2 linked regions of the Homo sapiens genome follow. The protein of the gene in region 1 purifies or fractionates together with the protein of each later gene. This does not show direct contact. Each region holds a gene or a part of one and is shown on either strand. Other genes may lie near its edges.

Region 1 (3,500 bases):
GTCCAGTGGGCCAGGATGGAGGTCGGGGACAGCCCAGCTGCTGCTGGAAGTCCTCAGAGGCGGATGGCCGGCCCTGGCCAGTGTGGAAGAGGTCGGGTGGAGTGCTCCACACATTTGCCACAAGAGGCCTGTTCTGTGCTGCACCAGGCACTGGACCTCAGGCGCCACTGCCCAGTGGCCAGGGTCAGGTTTCTCAGAGACAGCTGAAGGCAGCGGGGCGAGAGCAGCCAGTCTGGAGGTTCTGTCCCTCTTTTCTGAGCAACACATTCAGGAAGTTTCTATCCCCTGATTACCTTAAAAAATATGTATGTGTGGGCCAGGTGAGGTGGCTCACGCCTGTAATCCCAGCACTCTGGGAGGCCGAGGTGGGTGGATCACCTGAGGTCGGGAATTCGAGACCAGCCTGGTCAACATGGTGAAACCCCATCTCCAGTAAAAACGCAAAAATTAGCCGGGCATGGTGGCGTGTGCCTGTAATCCCAGCTACTTGGGAAGCTGAGGCAGGAGAATCGCTTGAACCTGGGAGGTGGAGGTTGCAGTGAGCTGAGATTGCCTCACTGCGCTGCAGGCTGGTCAACAGAGTGAGACTCCATATCAAATAGAAAAAAAAACCATATATATATATATATATATATATATTCATGTGTGTGTATATATATTCACATATATATATTGACGTATATTTTTAAAGCAGTTTTAGGTTTACAGCGAAATCTAGCAAAGAATACAAAGTGTCCCCACCTATCCCTTCTCACCTCCATCAGTGCCCCCCGGCTGTGTGGTAGAGTCGTGAGCCAACGCTGAGACATCATTATCTCCGCAAGCTCATAGTTTACATTAGGGGTTGCTCTTGCCGTTGGACATTCTGTGGCTCTGGATGGATGTAGAGTGACATGGACCCACCATTACAGTCACCTCTGGAGCAGCGTCACTGACCCCAGAATCCTCTTTCTGCTGCCTATGCATCCCTCCGTTTCCCCAAATCCCTGGCAACCACGGATCATTTTTTTGTTTTGTTTTTTTGGTTTTTGTTTTTGTTTTTTTTACTGTATCTGTGTTTTTGCCTTTTCCAGACTATCATCTAGTTGTGATCATAAAGTGTACAGTAGCGTTTTCAGATTGGCTTCTTCCACTCAATGATATACATTGAAGGCCCTTCCATGTCTTCTCAGGGCTTGGTAGCTCATTCCTTTTTTGACTGAATAATATTCCGTTGTCTGGATGTGCCAGTTTGTTGATCCATTCACCTGCTGAAGGACATCTTGGTTGCTTCCAAGTTTTGGCAGTTATGAATAAAGCTGCTGTGTACATCTACGTGTAGGTTTTTGTGTGGAGATAAGGTTTTAATTCATTTGAGCTCAATTGCTGGATCGTATGGTAAGAGTGTGTCTCGTTTTGGAAGAAACTGCCAAACTCTCTTCCAAAGTGGCTGTGCCACATTTATTCACCGGTGGCGAACGAGAGTCCTGGCTGCTCTGCATCCTCACCAGTATTTGGTGGTGTCAGTGTTCTGGATTTTGGAATTCTGTTAGGTGTATTGTGGTGTCTTGTTGCTGTTTCAATTCGCATTTCCCTGATGAGGTATGAAGTGGAGCATCTCTTCAGATGCTTATTTGCCATCTGTGTATCTTCTTCAGTGAAGTGTCTATTAAGGTCATTGGCTCATTTGTATTTTATTTATTTTTATTTTTATTTTATTTTTGAGATAGGGTCTCACTGTAGCCCAGGCTGGAGTGCAGTGGCACGATCCTGGCTCACTGCAGCCTCAATCTCCTGGGGCTCAAGTGATCCTCATGCCTCAGCTTCTGGAGTAGTTGGGACTACAGGCACATACCACCATGCCCAGCTAATTTTTCTATTTTTTGTAGAGATGGGGTCTCGCTATGTTACCCAGGCTGCTCTCAAACTCCTGGACTCAGGAGATCCACCTGCCTTGGCCTCCCAAAGTGCTAGGATTACATGCGTGAGCCACAGTGCCCGGCCTTGGCCTATTTTTAAATCTGCTTGTTTGTTTCCTTACTGTTGAGTTGGAAGTGTTCTTCATATATTTTGGATACAAGTCATGTGTTTTGCAAATATTTTCTCCCAGCCAGCGGCTTGTCTTCCCTGTCTCTTGATCCTGATATCTCCTAAGCATTTGATGTAGAGTTAATGATTAATGAGCAAGATATTGAGACCTCATCAACTAGATCTAAAGAAATCACTAGGCCAGACACATAATCCCAGCACTTTGGGAGGCTGAGGCAGGTGGATCACCTAAGGCCAGGAGTTTGAGACCAGCCTGGCCAACGTGGGGAAACCCGGTCTCTACTAAAAATAGAAAAATTAGCCAGGCGTGGTGGCTCACGCCTGTAATCCCAGCACTTTGGGAGGCTGAAGCGGCAGATCACCTGAGGTCAGGAGTTTGAGACCAGCCTGGCCAACGTGGTGAAACCCCATCTCTACTAAAAATACAAAAATTAGCCGGGCGTGGTGGCACACACCTGTAATCCCAGCTACTCAGGAGGCTGAGGCAGGAGAATCACTCGAACCCGGGAAGCAGAGGTTGCAGTGAGCTGAGATCGCGCCACTGCACTCCAGCCTGGGAGACAAAGCGAGACTCTGCCTCAAAAAAAAAAAAGAAAAGAAAAGAAATCACTAGGTAGCTGCGACATTGAACTGAAGGTTGAAAGTATTAAGTTTCTTTGTGGACTTTAAATAACCTTCAGGAGAGAAATCTCAAAGCTCTAAACCAGCAACCGAGAATTTCCTTCAGGGCATCCATCTTTTACACGGAGCCATCAGTTGTGTAGATGATGGGTTGCCCCAAAACACTAAGACGCACCAGTGAAGGGAGGGGAGCTGTGGCAGGGGGGCCTGCACTGCCCCCGCCTTTCCCCCCAGCAACGCCTGGGCTGGGAGCTGGGGGTGGGTGAGACCCTGGCTCAGGCCCCACTCAGGACAGTTTGAGGGACAGGCAGATGGGGGGACTGAGCCATGGGGGTCTCACCACCCAGACTTGGGGTTTTGGGCCTCCCTGGAGGAAGTGGTCCTGGCTGAATGTCTAGGATGGATGTAAATTAGCCCAGGGAGGGGGAGGGGGCTCCTGAGGAGACCCCCAGGCAGGCTCCCAGTGGCTGAGCAACGGTGCAGCCTGTGGGCTGTGGCCAGCCCTGGTCGGGGGCTGGAGAGGTGAGCAGCCCTGGCGTCCCACAAACACAGGAGCTTGGAACCCTTGCTGGGGCTTGGCAGGGGTGGCCGATTTCAGTGGTGCTTTGGGGAGTGGGGAATGGACGGAATGGGGGAACGGCGGGGAGGCAGGCTGGCAGGAATGTGGCACGGGGCACAGGCAGTGCCCCGAGGAGGTGGCGTGGGTGGGCGCAGGCGTGGCTGTGATTTCCACGCTGTTTTCTAGCGGGCTGCAGCCCCTCTGATGCTGAAATGAAAAAGGACCCAGATCCTTGTTTGTGGGAGGGGTGGGAAAGGATTTGCAAGGAGTGTGGTCTCTTTTGGACGATTTT
Region 2 (3,500 bases), on another chromosome or scaffold:
TTGGAAGCTCACTATTTAAAAGAGGGCTGTGAATAATTATTTTTTCAGTAAAAAATGTTTTCTTCTCTTATTTGACAATATTGTAACCCAGATTTGGGGATCTAGGATGCACCTCTTACAGGGAGGTACACTAATGTTACTAGGGTGCTTGATCCAAAAGAGAGCTGGGGCTGGGGGGCAGGATCGATAATTGTGGGAGTCTCTGACTACACGATGCCATGTGTCAGTCCTTCTAGCTTTGCTTTTTTCTCCATGGTAGGAATCTCTTCTACCTGCTTTCCTAACTCTTCTGTAGTTCCTTTGCCTTGAGGGCTTTCAAGTCAGGGAAGCAGTAATCCCTGGTTTCTTTCCTGTCTTCTAGACTCTAATTCCTGCTCTGGGCTCTAATCTCTTTTTTTCCATACTCTAGTTTCTCTAAATGCCTTTTTCTTCTCTAAGAAGAAGAAGGTGTCCTAAAGCCACTGTGATTTATTTACCCTATTCTCTCCTCACGTCACAGTCGGGCTGTGAGACTGTTGCAGACATAGTCAAAGGAGAAAATAAAGTTATGAGTATATGTGTTAACTTACTTCCTTTTCCTCTGCTATAGAGCTGTACTTTGGAGCTGGTTCACCTGGCAGCTTAGTGTTCACATCAGCGGCTGCTTTATTAATAGCTTAACCGTTGTTCCCTTGCTGCTCATTACACCTGTGTTGGCTAACTTTGACTCCGGGAAGTGACTGGGCTTGAGGATTTCAGGGCTGAAGAATGACTTTAGGGAGCCAAAACCTCCGAAGGAGCATTACTGGGACTTCAACTGCTCCAGGGATGGGGCGAAGAGGGGCTACTGGCCGAGGTGCCTTTACGGTGCTCAGAGGACTGGTTTCAGGGCTTATGAAAGCAGAAATGGAGGGCCGGGTGTGGTGGCTCACGCCTGTAATCCCAGCACTTTGGGAGGCCGAGGAGGGTGGATCATGAGGTCAGGAGATCAAGACCATCCTGGCTAACATGGTGAAACCCCGTCTCTACTAAAAATACAAAAAAACTACAAAAAAAAAAAAAAAAAAAAAAAAAACTAGCCGGGCATGGTGGCGGGCGCCTGTAGTCCCAGCTACTCGGGAAGCTGAGGCAGGAGAATGGCTTGAACCCGGGAGGCGGAGCTTGCAGTGAGCCGAGATCGCGCCACTGCACTACAGCCTGGGTGACAAAGTGAGACTCCATCTCAGGGGGAAAAAAAAAAAGCAGAAATGGAGAAATCTACATGCTTTTTTTTTTTCTTTTTAATTTTTTTTTTTGAGTAGTTCTGGAACAGACAAATTCTTCCATGTACCTTTCCCTAAATACAAAAGCAATGTATGTTCATAAAAAATTCAAACTACAGAAAGGATTTAGAAAGCGAAAAGTAAAAGACTCCTGTTTCTTCCAAATTTGATTCTTTTAGACATCTTATTCTGGTATATCCTATTAATAAAGGTAGGTTCATATTGTTCATATTCTGTTCAGCTGCCATTTCCTTTTTTATTTTTTTAAATAAGTTACTGTCTTGTGGACATCCTTTTAATGTTGATAAATGCAGATTTACCTCATTCTGCATTGTATGGATATGCCAGCTTTCCACGGATAGGTATTTAAATTGTTTCCAGTTTTTCATCATCACAAAGAGTGCTGCAGTGACCATTCTTACACGTACACCTTTGCACATTTGTGACAGCAACTTTTCCTACAGAAATAATAGAAAAGATAGACACATTGGAAATGTTCATCAGTATTACTAATTTGCTCTCCTAAGAAGTTCTATATTGTAAGCTGTTTTCAATATTTTAAGATATTTGATGGAAATTGGGCAGCATCAACTATAGCCATAGTGGTTAACTGAAACATCAGCTTTCTTAGTGTTTGACCGTAGTTATACGAACTTGGTTATTTCATGCCTGTCAACTGGCAGGAGATAATCAGCAGTTCTGACTTCTGATGAATAAAGATAAAATGTCACTAATGAAACATGCTTTATGGGCAGCATATTTCTAAATATTAGGCCTCTTTAGAGCCAATAAAAGAAGACGTCCTGGGTCCTGAAAAGGCTGGGAACCATTGCTCTCCTAGACCATCCTTCAGGATTAGAATGGAGAGCAAGTTGTGTTTACCGTGAGGGAACCTTTGTCAAGTGCTGACATGAGGCACAGGAGCTGGCAGCTGGGACTGAATGGGCAGTCATGAGATCAGGAGACTGGTCAGAACCCTGACCTTGACTGTCTATTGTGGGACCATGGGCAAAGCTCTTAATTTCTCCAGGCTTGAGTTTTTCCATTTACACGAGGGAAGTTATCAAGTCCTCATTTTTTTTGTAAATCTTTTTTTTAAAATACATTTATTTATTTATTTTGAGACCGGGTTATGAGACTGGCTAATTTTTATATTTTTAGTAGAGATAGTGTTTCACCATGTTGCCAAGGCTGGTCTCAAACTCCTGGGTTCAGGCGATCCACCCAACTTGGCCTCCCAAAGTGAGGATTACAGGCATAAGCCACTGCGCCCAGCCTCAAGTCTTCATTTTATCTAAGCAAGTTTATGAAAGGAAAATGAGTTTAAGTTTAAGAAAAGGAGTTGAACCTGGCTTAAAGAAGGTGGAAGAGAATTTCAGGATTGAAACAGTTTTCCATTGTCTATCAAGAGATGGGTTACATTGTCTCTGAAATTAATCAGGTGGCAGTGGCAGGTGGTTTTGTTTTTTAACAGGCAGGACAGAATGTTCCTACTTTTGCCAGTGTGGTAATTTGAGATAGGAAGTGTGGTTTAGTTTTGTACTCCAGAAAATGAGAAGCCCTGGTTGTAGCAGGTGTGCTTAAGTGTATTCTGGACAGAGGCGAGAGGTGCGTTGCTGGAGGGCTCTTGGGAGGTCCCAGTGGATGCAGTTTTTTGTTGTTGTTGTTCTTAGCATTCTCTGTCCACATGGGTAAACAAGAGCAGCTGGTTCCCTGGTTGCCTTCAGAGCAGCTCCCAAGTATCAGTTCATTTTAAACTTTAGGGAGGGTAATAGGACCTTCGGGGGAAGTGCCTAATGGGCTGGAAGGTGCGGACAAAGCAGGCCTAGAAGTGCAGGTAATGAGCCAAATCATGGGGGATTGAGAGCAGGCATTGAGCCGAGCTGGAGAAAGTGAAGACTCAGGGGATTTTACTACTTAAACCTGAGACAGCTGATCCCATGCAGAGGCTATCTGCTTGTTAGGGGCCAGTGATCAGGGATTAATGCCAGCTGAGGCTTCAGGGTACAGTTTGCTTGCCTTTAAGCTCCCTATTTGAACACAGATGAAAATCACTTATGTTGCTCCTTTACCTACCTTGGAGGGGCTCCTGCTGAGACTCAGGAATTTTCCATGTGTGCAGTGGGTAAAGGACTAAAAGCCAAGCCCTCTGACCCCAGGTCTGGGCCTCCATTTCTCCCTCCTCACCACTAGGGTCACTCTGAGTACTTCTTGCCAAACACCCTTAGGAAACTTTTCCTTCCGAGGGTGGTTCTCTAC

The links. Proteins that work in one complex are often made in the same cells at the same time.
Region 2: the proteins of PARVB (region 1) and PFKFB2 fractionate together in Homo sapiens (co-fractionation; one large-scale study listed by BioGRID). This does not show direct contact.

Annotation. Positions count from the first base shown.
Region 1 is NC_000022.11:44,027,302-44,030,801, forward strand, and holds part of PARVB (beta-parvin), read left to right. Parts: intron 1-3,500. UniProt on the Homo sapiens protein: Adapter protein that plays a role in integrin signaling via ILK and in activation of the GTPases CDC42 and RAC1 by guanine exchange factors, such as ARHGEF6. Is involved in the reorganization of the actin cytoskeleton and formation of lamellipodia.
Region 2 is NC_000001.11:207,056,275-207,059,774, forward strand, and holds part of PFKFB2 (6-phosphofructo-2-kinase/fructose-2,6-bisphosphatase 2), read left to right. Parts: intron 1-3,500. UniProt on the Homo sapiens protein: Synthesis and degradation of fructose 2,6-bisphosphate.